Regions from separate parts of the Homo sapiens genome. Here regions 2 and 3 are each reported to be linked to region 1. Evidence: microRNA targets listed by miRTarBase, many of them from high-throughput screens and not tested one by one. Region 1 holds a microRNA gene; each other region holds the end of a gene's coding sequence.

The links. The annotated mature microRNA hsa-miR-4319 reads UCCCUGAGCAAAGCCAC and lies in region 1 at 961-977, opposite strand. An mRNA with a match to its seed (bases 2 to 7 or 8) in the 3' UTR can be bound and repressed. Matches are read on the target gene's strand: a 7mer-m8 pairs with bases 2 to 8, a 7mer-A1 pairs with bases 2 to 7 and ends in A, and an 8mer does both.
Region 2: the mRNA of ARIH2 is a reported target of hsa-miR-4319. Seed matches in the 3' UTR shown: 7mer-m8 at 78-84.
Region 3: miRTarBase lists HID1 as a target of hsa-miR-4319. The part of its 3' UTR that is shown has no 7-base or 8-base seed match.

Annotation. Positions count from the first base shown.
Region 1 is chr18:44,969,180-44,972,431 of GRCh38, forward strand. MIR4319 (microRNA 4319) reads right to left here and starts at 987; the gene lies at 903-987. All of the region lies in intron 4 of SETBP1 (SET binding protein 1), which reads left to right.
Region 2 is chr3:48,982,928-48,986,179 of GRCh38, reverse strand. It overlaps ARIH2 (ariadne RBR E3 ubiquitin protein ligase 2), which reads right to left. Exons shown (of 16, transcript NM_006321.4): 15 at 3,201-3,252; 16 at 1-2,981. The coding sequence ends at 2,910. LOC124909376 (a long non-coding RNA gene) reads left to right here. Exons shown (of 2, transcript XR_007095903.1): 2 at 447-695. Among named protein-coding and RNA genes, the nearest start is that of P4HTM, 5.7 kb to the left of the region's middle.
Region 3 is chr17:74,948,686-74,951,937 of GRCh38, reverse strand. HID1 (HID1 domain containing) reads left to right here. Exons shown (of 19, transcript NM_030630.3): 18 at 1-33; 19 at 305-1,196. The coding sequence ends at 368. It overlaps OTOP3 (otopetrin 3), which reads right to left. Exons shown (of 7, transcript NM_001272005.2): 7 at 1,946-2,692. The coding sequence ends at 2,522. Among named protein-coding and RNA genes, the nearest start is that of OTOP3, 14 kb to the right of the region's middle. RefSeq lists an enhancer at 863-1,821.

The sequences.
Region 1 (3,252 bases):
TAAACTCGATATCTTTACATTCCTTTGGTTTCAAGGCGGGGGAAGAAAGCTGCAGTTTTTCTAATTTCCCTTCAGTTCAATGCTACTCTTGAATGGGGAAAATGATACAAAACGTCTGAAGAATTGAGAGTCTGACAAGAGGGGAGGATTTGTATTTCCTTGTTATTAAAAAAGAAGAAAAAGCCCTCAGTTATGTCTAATCTTTAGGAACGCAGTGCCCTGTCCAACCCACGAACTGTTGGCAGCATCATAACTCTACACAGAATGTTCTTTTAAGCTTTTCCCTCCTTCCCAAGCCTTTCCTGTGAAGTTATAAATCTCAGCATTTAGAGATATTCTTATGCAAATAAAGGAGGGACTTTAGGTTGGGACCTTTCATGTTGATTCTGCTGAGGGCATGCTAGAGAAACAGCCCCAAGAAAAGCAGGCGCACTTCCATGGCTAGGTTCTAGGTTTGACTTTATTTGTGAAACCCCATCTGTCCCTCCTACACCAAGTACCAACTCCAGGAAGCTGTGATTTAATAGCTCTGTGCCTAGAGGAAGTTTTACCCAACCCCTCACAACATCCTCCTGATTGTTTGGAAAGTGAAATGATTCTGAAGATCAAACTCTACCGCTTCTTGCACTGCCTCCTCTTCTGTGTATAGCTGACCTCCTCATTCCACCTACACAACACTCCCCTTAAACTTTGTTGCAGCAGGCAGAGCAGTGTGGCCTTAGGTGTAGGTGCACCTGGAAAAACCCCAAATAATGTCCACTTGAGGTCACATAGGCAAGCAGATGTCCTGAACCTATTGCTGCCCTTGAGTCAAAGAATCCTAATTCTCCTTATCTGGTTATTTTGGCTGCTCCGTGATAGTGACATATTTTTCAAAATACATTCATGTGCATTTTCTCCTTTGACCATCATAGCCCCATGAGCTGAGCACTCATATAACGTCCTCAGGGAGCATTCCCAGTGGCTTTGCTCAGGGACTCAAGCCAAAAAGGTGATGATGGGCTCTGACTTAGTACAGTGAGTTATCACCGAAAGGAAATGGGAAAAGAAAGAGACTGACCAAAGAGATCCAGCCAGGCAGCCTTGTGCAAGTGATTTAAACAACCTCTGCCTGTGTTTGCAAATCCAAAATAGAGATAATAGTAGTTAGTAACTCACGGGGTGTGTCTGCTTATAAAGTTGTAGCATATGTACCTATATGTAGCAGAATGCCTGACTCATAGAAAATATACCATAAATGTTAGTGGTTATTAATGATTATTATTAATGTATTGAACACCTATAGTATACCAACCTTTATTTCATATTTTGTTTACAACGATTCTAGTTGGTTTTCAATAGAATACATCACTGTTGGTATAATTACAAATGCACAGGCCTTTTTTTTTTGGAACAGAGTGTTGCTCTTGTTCCCCAGGCTGCAGTGAAATGGGGCGATCTCGGCTTACTGCAACCTCCACTTCCTGGGTTCAAACGATTCTCCTGCCTCAGCCTTCCAAGTAGCTGGGATTACAGGCACGTGCCACCACACCCAGCTAATTTTGTATTTTTAGTAGAGACAGGGTTTCACCATGTTGGTCAGGCTGGTCTCGAACTCCTGAACTCAAGTGATCCACCTGCCTCGGCCTCCCAAAGTGCTGGGATTACAGGCCTGAGCGACCGCACCCGGCTGGGCTTGTTTTCTTTTCTTTTTTTTTTTAATTATACTTTAAGTATTAGGGTACATGTGCACAACGTGCAGGTTTGTTACATATGTATACATGTGCCATGTTGGTGTGCTGCAACCCATTAACTCTTCATTTAACATTAGGTATATCTCCTAATGCTATGCCTCCCCCCTCTCCCCTTCCCCCACCCCACAACAGGCCCCAGTGTGTGATGTTCCCCTTCCAGTGTCCATGTATTCTCATTGTTCAATTCCCACCTATGAGTGAGAACATGCGGTGTTTGGTTTTTTGTCCTTGTGATAGTTTGCTCAGAATGATGGTTTCCAGCTTCATCCATGTCCCTACAAAGGACACGAACTCATCATTTTTTATGGCTGCATAGTATTCCATGGTGTATATGTGCCACATTTTCTTAATCCAGTCTATCATTGTTGGACATTTGGGTTGGTTCCAAGTCTTTGCTATTGTGACTAGTGCCACAGTAAACATATGTGTGCATGTGTCTTTATAGCAGCATGTTTTATAATCCTTTGGGTATATACCCAGAAATGGGATGGCTGGGTCAAATGGTATTTCTAGTTCTAGATCCCTGAGGAATCGCCACACCGACTTCCACAATGGTTGAACTAGTTTACACTCCCACCAACAGTGTAAAAGTGTTCCTATTTCTCCACATCCTCTCCAGCAACTGTTGTTTCCTGACTTTTTAATGATCGCCATTCTAACTGGTGTGAGATGGTATCTCACTGTGGTTTTGATTTGCATTTCTCTGATGACCAGTGATGACGAGCATTTTTTCACATGTCTTTTGGCTGCATAAATATCTTCTTTTGAGAAGTGTCTGTTCATATCCTTTGCCCACTTTTTGATGGGGTTGTTTGTTTTTTCCTTGTAAATTTGTTTGAGTTCATTGTAGATTCTGGCTATTAGCCCTTTGTCAGATGAGTAGATTGCAAAAATTTTCTCCCATTCTGTAGGTTGCCTGTTCACTCTGATGGTAGTTTCTTTTGCTGTGCAGAAGCTCTTTAGTTTAATTAGATCCCATTTGTCAATTTTGGCTTTTGTTGCCATTGCTTTTGGTGTTTTAGACATGAAGTCCTTGCCCGTGCCTATGTCCTGAATGGTATTGCCTAGGTTTTCTTCTAGGGTTTTTATGGTTTTAGGTCTAACATTTAAGTCTTTATGCATCTTGAATTAATTTTTGTATAAGGTGTAAGGAAGGGATCCAGTTTCAGCTTTCTACATATGGCTAGCCAGTTTTCCCAGCACCATTTATTAAATAGGGAATCCTTTCCCCATTTCTTATTTTTGTCAGGTTTGTCAAAGATCAGATAGTTGTAGATATGTGGCATTATTTCTGAGGGCTCTGTCCTGTTCCATTGGTCTATATCTCTGTTTTGGTACCAGTCCCATGCTGTTTTGGTTACTGTAGCCTTGCAGTATAGTTTGAAGTCAGGTAGTGTGATGCCTCCAGCTTTGTTCTTTTGGCTTAGGATTGACTTGGCGATGCGGGCTCTTTTTTGGTTGCATATGAACTTTAAAGTAGTTTTTTCCAATTCTGTCAAGAAAGTCATTGGTAGCTTGA
Region 2 (3,252 bases), not on the chromosome of region 1:
ACTGGCAATGTATGAGGCCTCTTCTAGCCACAGGTGCCCTGTGCATGTTGCCCACAGCTATGGAGCCTCCACTCTACCCCTGAGCTACTTATCACTGACACTACTGCCACTTCTGACACCACAAATGTGGACCCCCTTAATCAATCCAAACCTCATTTCCTGTCCTTCACCCTTGAGATTAGACTCCACACTTGTTTCTGCCCCAAGTTGTCTCTTCATAACCCTTAGGGCTCCCGTGAAGCTGGAGTTCACCCTGCCATATTCCACAGCCCTACATTCCCATGTCTGCTTTGGAGGGGTCCGGAGGTCTCAGAATGGGGGGGTTGGGACATTTATATCAGTACTCTACCACAACCCTGGGATCTATCTGTGGTGGGGAATGATTCAGCCTGTACTGAGGGAGAGGAGAGCGGAAAACTGGCAGGATTTTCTACTTCATTCCACAGGGATCACTTACAGGTGCCCTCTCCCCCAACAGCCAGAAAGGGAAAACAGAGCCGAGTTTGGCCACTGGGGCCTCCACAGCCCTCTGGAAGAAGGGGCTGACTGATAGGAAGGCACTCCTCTGGTGTTCACTGGCCAGACCCCTGTGGGCTCAGAAGACTACCTAGACCCCATGAAGAAAGACTCTAGACACATTTTTATAATCAGAAACTTACAGTTTATTGTGAATAAACCACTCAACTTTGAGCAGATGACATTGCCTCAATTAACTTTTTCGTTGAAGAAAAACAAAGATATATGGTAAATTCATGAAAATACTGTGTCCTTTCTCTTCCACCCTTTGTAGGGCAGAAAAATTCTGCCTGACCTTTCCCATCTTCCTGATGATGTTAACAAACGACAGCCACTGAGGGCACAGGAGGGGGCTCTACACAGGCCAAGAGCTACAGGCTACAGTCTGAGCACAGAAAACCCTCCAGCTCCAGCATCCAGGGCCACAGCTGGACACAAGTACAGAACCTGGCAGCCCTGCAGCCCAGACAATGCCCAGGGTGTGATTTAGGGTGCAGAGCTGCAACTCAGATCCTGTGCCATGGCAGTATCACAGGAAGGACTTGACGGAGAGGTGAAGGCTCCAGACGCCAGGATATTTATTCCCTGTGCCAATACAGCATTCACACCTGACCTCCAGGTCCTGCAGCAGGTACTCTCCTCATTCACAGTTAGCTCCCCACTGTTCCATTCTGGGTTCATTTGCTATACTCCTAATCTGTTCTCCCAATCCACCCCACAGTCTCTCCCTTGCTGGGGACAACACAGGAAGAGACAAAACCTGAGGAAGGAAAAAGGGAACCTGCAACCAGCCATGGACCTCATGATCCCATGAGTCACAGCTATCCTCTGTCTTTAAGAATGACTGTTTTATAGCTTACATGGTACCTGGGAAATTGCTGACTTGCAGCTGAAATGTATGAATACCAAAGAATTTCTATCACAATATTCACAGATCTCTGTATCAGCTCTACTTGGAGGTCAAGCAGGCTTGGGAGAGTATAGACTGCTCTGCCTGCCCTAGAGTGGAAGCATTGAACAAAGCCACAAAAACCCCAGAGATCACAGATCTAACTTTTCAATGGCCCACAGGACCAGGTTCAGGACAGGTAGGACACCAGGCAAACCACTTGTTCCCTTGCGCTTCATTGTGCAAAAGCTGGTCTGTTCCTCTGGCCAGACCCTCCTTAGTACAGGATCTCGGACCACAAACCAAGGAGTCTCGTGGCCTTGGATTCCCAGACCCTAGGATGGTATCCCTCTGACAGCTGGAACCAGGCAAGGGGGAACACACCTCAGCCTCAGAGCAGCCTCTGGACACTCTCCAGGTAACATGAAAATAACTTGTGCAAACACAGCCCCCATGCCAGAAAGTCCAGTGCCCTAGGAAGGGCTATCCTGAATTCTGACCCTGATGTTTGCCAAAGGAGAATGCAGCAAGACAGTGTCAGGTTTGGCCAAATGTGACCCTGCTCAGAGCTATACCACTTGAATACTGGCACAAAAGAAAGGACCAAGGTAAAGCAAATTTATTTGGGAGGAACAATTCCCTTCAAAAGTAGATCCCTATCTTTAGGAGACAAAAGGCAACACTGTGATGAACCCACACCCCCTAGTTTGGGGGGCCACAGGCCCAACCCCATTCTGCTGTGGGCTCTAGCCTCAGTAGCCAGATCCAGGTAAACCTCAGTTTCAAGAATAAAGGTGAGCCACAGACATGCAGCACCACCAGAGACAACAACACCCCGTGGCAAGAAGACCATGTTCTGGACTGTCTCCGTACTGCCACGGTAAGGCAGGAGGCATGCTGTGACCCCTTGTGCTCCATGCCCATTGCACAGGCCAGTTCAATTCCCTACCATCTGCCACCCATGCTCTTCTTTGGGACTACAACTCTGGCCAAACGTGAATATGGAAAGCAGAGGCCCAGGGCCCTCTTGCAGTACAGACATTTTGAGGTGGGTAGGCAGCATATGTTACATTCTAAGTAAAACAGCTAGAGGGTAAAACACTCCAATGCCAATTTATTTTCAAAAAGGGCTCTGTGTTATCCTATAGTTTGCCTTTTTTTTTTTTTTGTATAATTGTACAACCTTTGAAAGTTACATAAGTTGTAATGATCTAATACTATTAATAGCCATTCAGAAAACACTTTCCCTCCCTCCCAACAACCATCCAGGGGGAAATAAAAGTCCTGAAAAGAGGCCAGTTCAACATGGCCTCTACCCTGGTAGAAACAAAAAGTGAAAAGAGAAGAAAACAGAAATCAACTAAGAGGTGTTGCCAGTGTCTCTCAGGAGTGGGGCCCTGGCTGTTGCCTGGGGTCATGAAAGGCAGAGCCTGCAGCATGCAGTATGGCAGCCGGGAGACCTTGCAGCCACATCTTCCTCACCCCGGCACATCCACATCCCAACTTAGGTGTCATGGAAATCTTTCAGCAGGGTTCTCCTCCGCTGCTCCGCTATATGCATCTGGTTCTCCAAGTCCTGCATCAGAGAAACAAGGTGTGTGCTTGCATGGCCCAGGCCTGGGAGCAAGGAGTAGCCAAAGCCACAAACACCCTCCAGGACCTCCAAGGAGTCAAAAACACTGCCCTTCCCATTCTTAGCAGCAGCTACCAGTGCACAAGCCAACAACGCTGTCACCTATTACCATGCCAGTCCTCTACCTGCAATATAGAATCCAAGAGGACAGTAGGCACTTACCCCTCTGTCATAGCTGTCTGCACGCTCCACTTTCCATGAGAGGTTTTCGATC
Region 3 (3,252 bases), not on the chromosome of region 1:
CCGCACCTACATGTGGGGCGTCATCTATCTGAGGTGGGCCCCGGGGAGTGGGGTGGTGTCCACCTGAGAGCCTGCCCAGCAGGGCTCAACAGGGACCTCAGCTCTGGGCCCCACCACCTATGGTGGACTTCATGTCAAGACAGTCAACTAAGGCGGCCTTGCCTGGTTGACGGTGGCACCCGCTGCCCAGGGTGGGACATCGGGATGGAAAGGGTTGGCTTGGCCATTCCTGCTGCCCAGCTCCTCCTGGTGCCTTGTCTGCAAGGTGCCCCAGCACCTGGGTAACCCCCCATTTCCTCCACAGGAATGTGGACCCCCCTGTCTGGTACGACACCGACGTGAAGCTGTTTGAGATACAGCGGGTGTGAGGATGAAGCCGACGAGGGGCTCAGTCTAGGGGAAGGCAGGGCCTTGGTCCCTGAGGCTTCCCCCATCCACCATTCTGAGCTTTAAATTACCACGATCAGGGCCTGGAACAGGCAGAGTGGCCCTGAGTGTCATGCCCTAGAGACCCCTGTGGCCAGGACAATGTGAACTGGCTCAGATCCCCCTCAACCCCTAGGCTGGACTCACAGGAGCCCCATCTCTGGGGCTATGCCCCCACCAGAGACCACTGCCCCCAACACTCGGACTCCCTCTTTAAGACCTGGCTCAGTGCTGGCCCCTCAGTGCCCACCCACTCCTGTGCTACCCAGCCCCAGAGGCAGAAGCCAATGGGTCACTGTGCCCTAAGGGGTTTGACCAGGGAACCACGGGCTGTCCCTTGAGGTGCCTGGACAGGGTAAGGGGGTGCTTCCAGCCTCCTAACCCAAAGCCAGCTGTTCCAGGCTCCAGGGGAAAAAGGTGTGGCCAGGCTGCTCCTCGAGGAGGCTGGGAGCTGGCCGACTGCAAAAGCCAGACTGGGGCACCTCCCGTATCCTTGGGGCATGGTGTGGGGTGGTGAGGGTCTCCTGCTATATTCTCCTGGATCCATGGAAATAGCCTGGCTCCCTCTTACCCAGTAATGAGGGGCAGGGAAGGGAACTGGGAGGCAGCCGTTTAGTCCTCCCTGCCCTGCCCACTGCCTGGATGGGGCGATGCCACCCCTCATCCTTCACCCAGCTCTGGCCTCTGGGTCCCACCACCCAGCCCCCCGTGTCAGAACAATCTTTGCTCTGTACAATCGGCCTCTTTACAATAAAACCTCCTGCTCCACATTCTGACTCTGTGGTTGAGGCGAGGGGCCAGGTGTGGCTCTTGTCTTCAGGGGAGCTGGGGACTCTGCACCCCAGAGGGCCCCCAGTGCATGACTGGGAACCAGCATTTGTTATTTTCTTGGGTGGGAAAGCAGGATCAGACCCTGTCACCTAGGGTTTGGGCCCCTGGGCTGTTGCTGCCCAGAGAAAGAGCCCACAGGAGAGGCCATGGGGCCTCACCAGGCAGCCACTGAGACAGCGCTGGGAGGGCTATGCTTGCTAGTGACTCACTTCGGTGGGGGTGGGTGAGGAGGAGGGCAGAGCCTCACCTGCAGGGCCAGGGCTGCCCTCTCTGGCCTCGTCCCAGGCAGAGCCCACTGTTTGCACTGGGCTCAGGGAGACGGATGGCCTGCCACACCTGCCCTTTCTCTTCCGTTCCTGCCCTACCTGATGGCTCAGGAGATGAGCCAGGCCTGGGACCGGCAGCCAGGGGCCACAGCCTGCATGGTGAGCCCGCTGCAGAATGTCACCGGGGGCTCTGTCCTAGAGAGAGGGTGTGCTGGGGAGGGGTGGGGGTGGAGAGACACGAGCCCGGACTTGTCTCTCCCACCTCTTCCCCCGGATCAGACCAAGGAAGAACTGGGTTAGACCCCTCCTGGCCCGGAAGCAGGACTGTCCCAGCCCCACAGCCCTACTCAAAAGGACCATTCCTTCCCACCATGTCCGGAGGAGCAGTTCTGTCCCTGGGAACAAATGCCATGAGCCTGAATGCAATCCATTAAACAAATAGGGTTTATGCGGCAGGAGAGAGCTGTTGAACCCTGCCTGGCAGCCAATGAATGAGCTCATTAGGAGACAGGTGTGTGGGGAGAGGAGCTGGCCTCCTAGCTCGGAGCTCTGAGCTCTGAGGATGTCCAGAGCCACACTTGGACCAGGTGCTCTTCTCGCAGCAGGGGGCAGACCTCTGAGTCCTGGCTGGAGAGGGGTGCCCCTCGCCAAGCTCCCCAGACTCGGTCATGTAGGTCTGACCCTCCCACAGAGTAGCCGTGAGGGGGCCCCTGCCAGCCTCCTGGGGTGCACCCTTGGCTTGCGGATCGTGGTGGGAAGGCAGGGGGCAGGCATGTGCCCAGGCCTGGCCGTGGGCATCAGAAGCTCAGTGTCCAGGCCCCTGCTGTTGGCCTCTGGCTCTAGGCAGTGCCCTCCCCTTCAGTGAGGCTCTGGGGAGCAGGAGGCCTTGAGAGCCTCAGGCTGGTCTCGGCACCTCAGAATGAGGCATCTGCTCAGAGACTCTGGGCTACCATCTTCCCCACCTTGGCACTTCGAGGTTCTGCCGGGGGTGGGCAGCCTCAGGCCCCCAGGTAGACCTCCACCAGGCCTCCCACAGAGTGCATGCGGTAGAAGACCCCCAGAGGCAGGCCGAAGTTGACGATGGCGAACCATATCTGGTAGCCGTAGAAATCCTTTTCTAGCCCGTTCTCAAACTCCGGGTGTATGCCAAATGCAGGCATCATCCACAGCTGGGGAAGAGGATGTGCTGAGTTAGGGAAGGGCTCTCCTGTGCCCCAAGGCACTCAGTTCAGGGGAGGCAGCCCCCAAACCTGCAGCCCCTCCAGTGCCACCCCCACCTCCCGCTCAGTCTTCTTCTAACCCTTGGGCTTTCAGCGTGAGCTCTTCTTTCCCCCAGATCTTTCTCGCCCTACTGCAGAAGGCCTTAGCTATCCCCAGCCATCTCTGTGAGCTTGCCTGTGGCCAGCCTGAACTTCAGATGGGTCAGGAGACCCCAGGCTGCCGCCACGTGTGGGGAGAAGCAGGAATTCCCAGCGCGCCACCTGCTCTGTCAAGCTGGGCACCCCCACCCTGTACCCTGAGCTCGGGCTTCACTCCTCGGCTAGCTACTTTTTATTTTTATTATTTATTTATTTTTTTGAGACAGGTCTCACTCTGTCACTCAGGCTGGAGTGCAGTGGCAGGATCACAGCTCACTGCAGCCTCAACCTCCCGGGCTCAAGTGATCCTCCCACCTCAGCCTCCCAAGTAGCTGGGACTACAGGCATGCACCATCATGCCTGGCTAATTT